2 separate regions of the Homo sapiens genome follow, and region 1 is linked to region 2. A link means that fine-mapping ties the variant in region 2 to the expression of a gene that starts in the linked region. Tissue or cell type: lung. Region 2 holds a variant in brackets; the other region holds the start of a gene. All regions are shown on one strand. Distances are between the middles of the regions.

What was found. PIP is the estimated chance that this variant, and not a neighbour inherited with it, causes the effect.
Region 1: TAS2R20 starts here. The variant in region 2 is fine-mapped to the expression of TAS2R20 in lung (GTEx, PIP above 0.99). The same link has a PIP of 0.9 or more in monocytes.

What each region holds. Positions count from the first base shown.
Region 1 is chr12:10,996,193-11,001,354 of GRCh38, reverse strand. It overlaps TAS2R20 (taste 2 receptor member 20), which reads left to right and starts at 3,051. Exons shown (of 1, transcript NM_176889.4): 1 at 3,051-5,162. The coding sequence starts at 3,480. The coding sequence ends at 4,409. The region is part of intron 3 of PRH1-TAS2R14 (PRH1-TAS2R14 readthrough); the gene reads left to right. The region is part of intron 3 of PRH1-PRR4 (PRH1-PRR4 readthrough); the gene reads left to right. It also overlaps a transcript of PRH1 not described here.
Region 2 is chr12:11,181,196-11,186,304 of GRCh38, reverse strand. It overlaps TAS2R42 (taste 2 receptor member 42), which reads left to right. Exons shown (of 1, transcript NM_181429.2): 1 at 1-312. The coding sequence ends at 312. Among named protein-coding and RNA genes, the nearest start is that of TAS2R42, 3.2 kb to the left of the region's middle. The variant T/G (reference allele first, on the strand shown) is at 2,225.

The DNA of each region.
Region 1 (5,162 bases), 180 kb after region 2:
ACAGAGCTCCACTTCTGCTAATAAAAAAAGAGTAAAATTTAATTTGTAAAATAGAATGGTGTAGCTAGGGTTGAGGTGCTATAATTTATTTATTGGAATGGCATCTTGAGATCCAGCACAGCTCATTGAATTTCCCTGTGGGGAGAGTTTGTGGTGAAGACTCATCAACAGACAAGCTGCTATCCCCCCCTAAAAAAAAAAGCTACTAACATCACATCAATTTCCAGGTTCTTCCAACTTGCGGAAGGATGTGTAGACCAAGCTTTTATTCTATTTTGTGACCAAAGTCTTGGGAAAAGAAGAAAATTGTTAGCATTTTCATGTCAAGCATACGAAAAACAAAAAAACAAAGCCAACCAACTGAACAAAGAACCCAACTTTTTTTAAAAAACTTGGTGGTAAGAGTGCTTTGTTCTGCTTCTCCATAGATAATGATTTATAGAAGGAGAACAAAATATAATTTCTGCTACTAAAACAATAATAGCAAAAAATAAATAATCAATATTGAGAATCCAATAGACAGAGTTAACAACCAGTTAGACATAGAAGAGAGAATTAGTGAATTGGAAGACAACTATAAAGAAAGAAGCCTAAAGAGACCACAAGACAAAGAATGCCAAGCTAAGAGGATAAGAGGCATTGATGCTACAATCAGAGCATCTAACATACTTCTGGATTTCTGGAAGATTAAAAGGGATAAAATAGGGCAGAATCAATGTTGTGGAGATTTTCCCAAAAGTGATAAAATGTATTAATCCATATATTTTTAGTAACCATCAAAGGTCAGACAAGATAACTAAAAACAAATTAACATAAAATGTCACAAGACATCAAAGACCAGTAGAAAATCTGAAAAGTAGCCAGAGGAAAAGATAGATTATTTTAAAAGGAACAACTTTCTAAATGACAACCTGATTTTCAACAGAAAAATGGAAAGTAGAATTCAATGGAATCATGTCTTTAGTGTGTTTCAAAAGAATAGAGGACCTTCATAAACAGAAATCCAAATGATATTTTTCAGATAAAAAATATTGAAAATACAAGGTTAAGCATGCAAGAAGGAATAAAAATTAACAGAAATGATAAATATGTGCATAATTCTAAATGAATGTTGACTGAATAAAATAATAGCGTCTTGCTGAGTTAAATATATTATTGATAAGATATATGCAAATAGCGATAAAGAGACTGGAGGTAAAGGTGACAGGAACAAATTTAGATAAATTATTTTTTGCACTTTTCTATGTCTGTGAGGATAATTTGAACACCACATTTAATGACCCCATAATAGGAATTGCATCAAATGATATGTGAAATAATGCTGATAGTAGTATTATTCATAATAGCTCAAAAATAGACTGCCCAAATATATATTAACTAAGGATGATTGAATGATATGAAAGATTACAGTAAATCCATACAGTGGAACAGTATATAGAGGTGAAAAGAAATGAATCACATGTACATGCAACTATGTAACTAAATTTCAGAAACATGATATCTAGTGCAAGAAGCCATGAACAAGAAGAACACACAGGACTGCACCTATACACAGTTCAAAGCAGGACAGACCAAGCTGTGGAGTTTAGGGTTGTGAACCTAGCTGGTAAAGTATAAAGAAATTCAAGCAAATGATCATCATAGATTATGAATATTGCTTATCTCAGGAGATGTGAATAAAGGTTTAGGGGCTTGGAAAGTGGCCTGGAAGTGGACCTAGTCTGTTTGCAGTGTTCCATGTCTTATCCTGCATGATGGTTACATAAGTGTTTATGATACATTGCTCTTACCTATTTTTGTTTTGGCCCATTTCTAAGTGTGCATTATAATTTTATTTAAAAAATTACAAATTGGGAGAAATGTCACGTAAAAATTATTAATTGCTCTGCTCATTATATACCTAGGGGGAAAATCCACCATTTACGTACATTCTTATACAACTCAAGAGAGCTAAAGTGAATTCTTATTTTAGTTGCAAAATGGAGAAATTTGAGATGCTGTTACCTACAGCCTCCAGATCTTTCCAAAAGTTTTCTTCTAGTTTTAGATATTCACCTCATATTACAAAAACTTTGATATTTCCAACCTATTTTTCCTTTGGCTCCTGAATTTCTGACACAACAAGGGCGCACATATTTCTCAAACTCTTGGATTAGCAGAGTACCTATATCACTTAGCTTTTTCTGCAAAAGAAACTTCTCCAAAACCACATTAGATATTTATATCTCACATGTTTTTGGATTCTGTTTTCTTAAGCTGGGGTTTGGTGGATGGCTCTGGTGATTTGAGATGGTCCAAGTTTTGCCTCTTGGATCTAGTTAGAGTTTGGCCGATTTAAGGCTGGATCAGGCAGGAGCCATATGATTCCATGAGTTACTCATTCTTATTCTGGGAACAGTGTGTTAGTGTGGACATGTTCTCATTATAAACCGGAAAGGAACAAGAAAGCCTAATGTGGAGGTCATCTCAAATTTCGATGTAAAGTGTAGTAATTTTCTGTTCATCAAAGCAAATTACATGATCGAACTCAGAGCCCTAGTGCAAGGTTGTCACTATGCCTGTGGTGGGAGGACACTGCAAAATTATGTGACAAAGGTCTGGTACTCAGGAATGTTTACAAGCTTGCAGGTAGCATTACCAAAAGCCTAAGCATGAGAGATATGTTTCATGAATATTATTCATTGGCTGAAAATCTGGCATGGGAAAAATAGGACTAATTCCACCAGGACGAGCTCCTGGAAACTCATTTTCCATGTCATAAGTTACAAGAAAGCAATTCCTTCCATCCTTGAAGAGTGAAAGTGTGTGTGTGTCTGTGTGTGTGTTTATGAGCTTGTTAATAGTGATGCCATATAGAAGTATTGGTTAACAGCAACCAAATTATAAGGAGTATTGGCTTTCCTGTGGTTTCCAAGAAAATCTTAGGTGATTTTGATAAAAAGTTTAGATTCTGTGTATTTAAATCTGGCTTTAAAAATAAATCCATAGTGATTTTGATCCTAGATTTCACCAGGCTCTTTTAACAATATATTTTTTGTGTCATCTATGTACTGGGTATTAAAATTTCCCCAACAACTGAAGGGCTGAACACAAATTATGGAAAGGTGAAACAAGGAAAAAATTGCAAAGCAATGAAAGAGGATATGTCTTTATTTGAATGCTAGCAAATGAGAATTCAGCTTTCCCTTCAACATCAGTATGAAAAATTTCAGCCTATAGCAAGAATAGAGACTTTATGAATAAGAATTAATTTGAGTTGTTTTGGGACTAACAGTATTTCCCATAAAGGCAGCATTGAACTCATTCATTAGTTTAAGCTGGTGCTTTTCTGTTGACATTGTTCACAGAATTTAAAAGTATAAAGAATGTTATTGGACATTCAGGAATCAAGTGCATATTTAACTTAAAGTCTTGAATATCAGAGGAGTCACCATCAGTGACATTAGGCCTGAATTTTTTACTTGCTTTTTTGTTTAGACATGATGAGTTTTCTACACATTGTTTTTTCCATTCTAGTAGTGGTTGCATTTATTCTTGGAAATTTTGCCAATGGCTTTATAGCACTGATAAATTTCATTGCCTGGGTCAAGAGACAAAAGATCTCCTCAGCTGATCAAATTATTGCTGCTCTGGCAGTCTCCAGAGTTGGTTTGCTCTGGGTAATATTATTACATTGGTATTCAACTGTGTTGAATCCAACTTCATCTAATTTAAAAGTAATAATTTTTATTTCTAATGCCTGGGCAGTAACCAATCATTTCAGCATCTGGCTTGCTACTAGCCTCAGCATATTTTATTTGCTCAAGATCGTCAATTTCTCCAGACTTATTTTTCATCACTTAAAAAGGAAGGCTAAGAGTGTAGTTCTGGTGATAGTGTTGGGGTCTTTGTTCTTTTTGGTTTGTCACCTTGTGATGAAACACACGTATATAAATGTGTGGACAGAAGAATGTGAAGGAAACGTAACTTGGAAGATCAAACTGAGGAATGCAATGCACCTTTCCAACTTGACTGTAGCCATGCTAGCAAACTTGATACCATTCACTCTGACCCTGATATCTTTTCTGCTGTTAATCTACTCTCTGTGTAAACATCTGAAGAAGATGCAGCTCCATGGCAAAGGATCTCAAGATCCCAGCACCAAGATCCACATAAAAGCTCTGCAAACTGTGACCTCCTTCCTCATATTACTTGCCATTTACTTTCTGTGTCTAATCATATCGTTTTGGAATTTTAAGATGCGACCAAAAGAAATTGTCTTAATGCTTTGCCAAGCTTTTGGAATCATATATCCATCATTCCACTCATTCATTCTGATTTGGGGGAACAAGACGCTAAAGCAGACCTTTCTTTCAGTTTTGTGGCAGGTGACTTGCTGGGCAAAAGGACAGAACCAGTCAACTCCATAGATTCACAAGAGGTGCATTGTGTGTTTTCTAGCAGAAAACAAATTGATGGTGTCTGGAACATTTTATATTTCCCACAAGTTTTTCCGTAGTCTATGTATTTGAGTAATTTCCAAAAGTTGACATAGAAAAGTCTTTTACCTAAGTTTATTATATAAAAGTATATATATATAATATACATTTGCGTGTGTGTGTATGTCTGAATGTATATGAAAATTTAATATTTACCATAACATACCTTTAATCAACTTTTCATATAAACTGTTCAGTTATACCAAAGTAGGATAAGAAATTTCTCAGAATTATGAACCCATGTGTATTTCACACATTTTTTTATATGATATTTCATTTGAGGAATTTATGATCTCTATTTATAATTAAGAACTGACAGCTTATATCAGAAAATCATTGCTGTTTTTCGTTGTAAAATCATTGCTGTTTTTCGTTGTAATTTGTATCACGTATATGTACCATAGTGTGTTTAACTGTTTAACTATCATTGTTTGAACCTCTAATTTTTTGGATGGTAAGGACATTTAATTCTAAATCGATGAGAATGTGTCTTTGGGGTAGGTTTTTTTGTTTTTTTTTTAATCATGAATTCTTTTTTTCTTTTTTTTGAGATGGAGTCTTGCCCTGTTGTCCAGGCTGGAATGCAGTAGCACAATCTTGGCTCACCACAACGTTCACCTCTGGGGTTCAAGTGATTTCCATGCGTCAGCCTCCTGAGTGGCTGGGACTCCAGGCATGCGCTAC
Region 2 (5,109 bases):
AGAAATTTGAAGCTCAGTTCCTTGGGCTCTAGAGACTCCAGCACAGAGGCCCATAGGAGGGCCATGAAAATGGTGATGTCTTTCCTTTTCCTCTTCATAGTTCATTTTTTTTCCTTACAAGTGGCCAATTGGATATTTTTTATGTTGTGGAACAACAAGTGCATAAAGTTTGTCATGTTAGCCTTAAATGCCTTTCCCTCGTGCCACTCATTTATTCTCATTCTGGGAAACAGCAAGCTGCAACAGACAGCTGTGAGGCTACTGTGGCATCTTAGGAACTATACAAAAACACCAAACCCTTTACCTTTGTAGACAGACTTTACAGAAGCTTTTCTAAGAGAATAACTCAACAAGGAGCATTTGGGGATCACTTCCACTGTTTTTTTTTTTTTTTTCTACTGGGTTTCTCTAAGTATTTTGGAACATAAATGAAATCCTACCAGGTTGCTTTTGATGGTAATTCACACATTGCCGGTCGATACCATTTTAAAAGTAATCATTTTTGTTTGGAGCATTGGCAAGCAATATTTTAACCTCACATATTATTTCAAAAAATCTAAATTATTTAATTTTATATGCAAACGATAGGTAATTGCAACTTGTGGAGAAAAAGGTGTGTGTCTTTAAAAGCAAGATAGATTACAAACTTGAATGGGTAAAAGATATATACAATGTGGATAGAAAATCTAATTAAAAACTAAAGTCACAGCAGGAAAAATATAGCCTCATAGCTTCAAAGCTAAACTTTTTTTTTTTTTTTTTTTTTTTTAATGGCATCTCACTCTGTCGCCCAGGCTGGAGTGCAGTGGTGTGATCTTGGCTCACTGCCACCTCCACCTCCTGGGTTCAAACAACTCTCCTATCTCAGTCTCCCGAGTAGCTGGGACTACAGGCACACACCACCACACATGGCTAATTTTTGTATTTTTAATAGAGATGGGGTTTCACCATATTGGTCAGGCTGTTCTCGAACTCCTGACCTCAGGTGATCCACCCGCCTTGGCCTCCCAAAGTGCTGGGATTACAGGCATGAGACACTGTGCCCAGCCCCAAGCATTTTTTTTAAATGAAAAAAAGTGGTTTTTTTTTGTTATTAGAAGTCTTGTTGATAACAAGGAAATACGACGATTATGTGAGAAAAGGAGAAGATTTGTAGTGTGAAATAAAATAAATTATCTTTAAATGGAAACTGGAAACACATGATTTAATGCTGATGTCAATTTAAAACCCCAAATAATAAACATTTTGATGTTTCTAGGCACATGCTAATTTTGCTAAATTCTAGGACATGCAATATGCATTTTCAGAGAGGCAGAAACCAATGTTTCTACCATGTTATGTAATAGAACTAAAATTATAGAAGTTTATGTCTTAATTCACAATTATACTCATATTGCTACTACAAAAAGATCATAATTACATTCTGAGGATGTTTGTGTTTGTGTTTGTTTATGTGACATGCATTTTGTTGCAATCTGATCACTGTATTTCTTAGAGGAAAAAATAGAAACAATGTTAACCAGCAAGGCACAGAAAGCAAAGTGATGTTGTTTATAGAATGTTGCAGGCTTATTGTAAATTTTAGACAAGCATATGTATACATAGTGCTGCTTTGACTGTGATAATCTAAGATTAGATAAGGTAACAAACTACAGATTGTAAATAAGGCTAAGGGTGGGAAAATTTACTAAAAATTTTGAATATGATGGCATAGATTAAAACACTGTACAGAAGCTGTATAGTGAAACTTTTTAATAACAAAGAATTCCTTTTAGAATTTACTTTTGATATGTTCTTTATATTGTGCTAGATTACAGAAACAAAAATGTGCTATTAAATACTGATAAATACATGCTTGTAAATTAATCTTGATGAAGCTATAGTTGAGGGCATGACTCCACAGCTGTGCCCTGGAGCCGGAAATGATGTTAGAATTATTAGTACTTCCCCCTCCCCATATGCATAAAATGAAATTGTAAGTACATCTGGGCTATATGGTATCATGTATCAATAACAATGATGTTGATGATTGTTTTAATGATAATACAACATCTTTTTTTAGTAATTTGCATTTTACAAAATAAAATGTACATATATTATTTTGATCACTAATTTAGTATTTTGTCAAAGATTATAATTATAATTTTCTTGCCTTGATAAAAGGTAATGTGCAAATCAAGCTGAATATATTTTAGACTTAGATACTGAGTTTATTTTAAAGATA[T/G]TCTTTTATATAAATGACTTAACCTTGTATTCTTTAAAACACAAAATACTATTTATATTTTTGTGTCAGTAAACTTTTCTTTGATAAGCAGTTGATCCAACTCATAAGCAACCTTAGTGGTAAATTAATACATGTCTAATTAAGAGTAATACATGTCTAACACTTAGTAGGCAGCAACCCCAGGGAGATGGGACTACAAGGAACAGGACCCCATTCTTCACAATAGAAGCAAAACAAAAAAGTAGTAAGAGCAGCCCGGGACATATTCTGGTTATTGCAATTGATGTATTGTAATCCGTTTTTGTTTTTTGTTTTTTTTTTTGACACAGAGTCTTGCTCTGTCGTCCAGGCTGGAGTACAGTGGGGCGATCTCGGCTCATGGCAACCTCCACCTCCCGGGTTCAAGTGCTTCTCCTGCTTCAGCTTCCTGAGTAGCTGGGATTACAGGTGGTGTATGCCACCACGCCTGGCTAATTTTTGTATTTTTAGTAGAGATGGGGTTTCACCATGTTAGCCAGGCTGGTCTCGAACTCCTGACCTCAGGTGATCCACCCACCTTGGCCTCCCAAAGTATTGGGATTACAGGCATGAGCCACCGTGCCTGGCCAGTAATCTGCATATTTGAATGGCAAATGAGAGCAAGCTCTGCACCTCCACTTTCTCCCAAACAAGGCCTTTGTGGGAATTTAGCAGCCACCAAGCCACAATCCAAGAGCCATGCCCAACACATGCACTGACACATGCAACATGCAACATCCCATCAACAAGACTGATGGGATTATGACCTACCCTGGGACCCAGCTGTTGGGGAAAGAGGGAAATTATCACTCATTTTTATAGACTCCCACTCATCTCACTTGTCAAATAAATGCTCATTTCAAGATACTGGGTGTAATCATTGTGGTTATTTCAATGCATACAGTCAGGTAATTTATAGGACAGGAACAAATAACCTGTTTCTACTGCTGAAATTGGCTTATCTCCAACCCATAGCTCTAGTTCTGAAGGCAAATAAGACACAAATCAAGTATATCAAGGCATGTTTTCTTAAACTGTACTGAATGTAACATCAGGTAGAAACCCATACCAATACTGATTTCCAAGAAAAAGGAGCACCAATTTCCTCACTGTCTTGGGTGGTTTATCTGCTATGTCTTAGTAGGTGGCTTTTTCTAGCAAAATCTTCATTAGACAGCATCTTCTCTGAGCCAGATCATGCTTTAAGGGGTGTTTTTTTTTTTTTACAAAAAAACTTTTAGTTTCAGGGGTAAATGTGCAGGTTTGTTACACAAGTAAACTCATGTCATGGGAGTTTGTTGTACAGATTATTTCATCACCCAGGTATTAAGCCTATTACCCAATAGTTATTTTAGGGGGTGTTTGTATATTTGCACAGTCATTTTGCTTTCATTCTAGACACTGGATGATATTTTGTCTAGAGTAGGACATAGATTAATTATGTAGATTTAAAAAATTGTGATTATTAACTTGGACTTTGAATACAACTCATAGTATATGGGACTTGTGGTTTTTATACTTGTTATTGCATCTTTTATTTTTAGTTTCTTCAGCGTAACTACAAACTTAGATGTTCTTTAATCACTATCTCCTGACTGACTTGTTTTCGGTGTTTTTCACAGCTAAACCATGCCTATCAATGGAATCTTCTTCTCAATTAGCCTTTACATGACTTGCAGAGCATTTCTGAAAACATTAGTGATCTCTAGGGCTATCTTGCTTCTTGGGTCATGAAATCTAGTTTTCTAGCCATCTTCAACAGAAGTAGTTCCTTTTCATGAAGAAAAGTACCAAGCCTCCCCCATCTTGGGTGGCAGACCATGTTCCTTTTGATTCTGTATGATTTCTTGATTGAACTAGAAAGATTACAGAGCAGTGTTGGGTTTTTCAGGATTAGAACAGAAATCTTTCATAAGCTCATACATGAATGTAACATTTTCTGTAAGGAGGTACTTTCTTTTCTTGCTCTGATACTTGTTTCACAGTCAAGCCTAATTCATTTTCTCCTTTTGTGTGCTGCTAGTGGGACTGCCAACTAAGTTAGCACTAATTCATTTAACAAATAGTTATGGAAGACCTGCTATTATCCATGCCCTTTATGTTCTGTGAATTGGAAACAGACTAATGAACAACAACAAAAAAGTCGCTTATGTGGTTGTTAAGAGAGTTGGTGGCCAGTTTGCCAGTCAGCGTCAAAATTGGCTGAATGAGAAACACATTGTTAGAGAACAAGGCAGGCAAAATCCTGTCCTGTCCTTGCAGAATCATAGATTTGCAGCTTTTGGGTAGAAATATTTTTGCCTGGGTTTGGGAGTCACTGTAAGACATACATCAAGAGCCTCTCAGTGAGTGCCAGCAATGTACTCCAGACCAATTAGGTAAAAAAAATCCCTGGGAGTGGCCCACAGGCATCAATATGTTTTTTTAAATCTCCCAAGTTAACTCCAATGTGCAGTCAAGTTTGAAAAACATTGTATTAGAGTTACAAAATAATACAAATAAATTATAAAATGTATTTTACTGTGGATACATTTTTATGAGACAAAGAATTTTACCAAAGGAAGAATTAATGAAAAGGAGAATCTCCCTCCTATTCTCCCTCTTATGTTTTTTTGCTATTTTTCCATCCTTTTTTACTATTTTTTTTTCATTTCAGTTGATAAGAGCTTATTCAAAATCAAATAGCCAGGAAGGCATTGGAAACCAAGCTCAAAAGTTCAGTAAAATAGCTCAGATAAAGGAATACTTTTTGTTTCTTTACATATGCTTTTACATAATTATGTAAAATCATCTCCCTTTTTGTCTATTTCTTTAAGAAATCCTAAAAGCTTCAAGACCCAAGCCAACTGTCATTATCTTCATGAAAC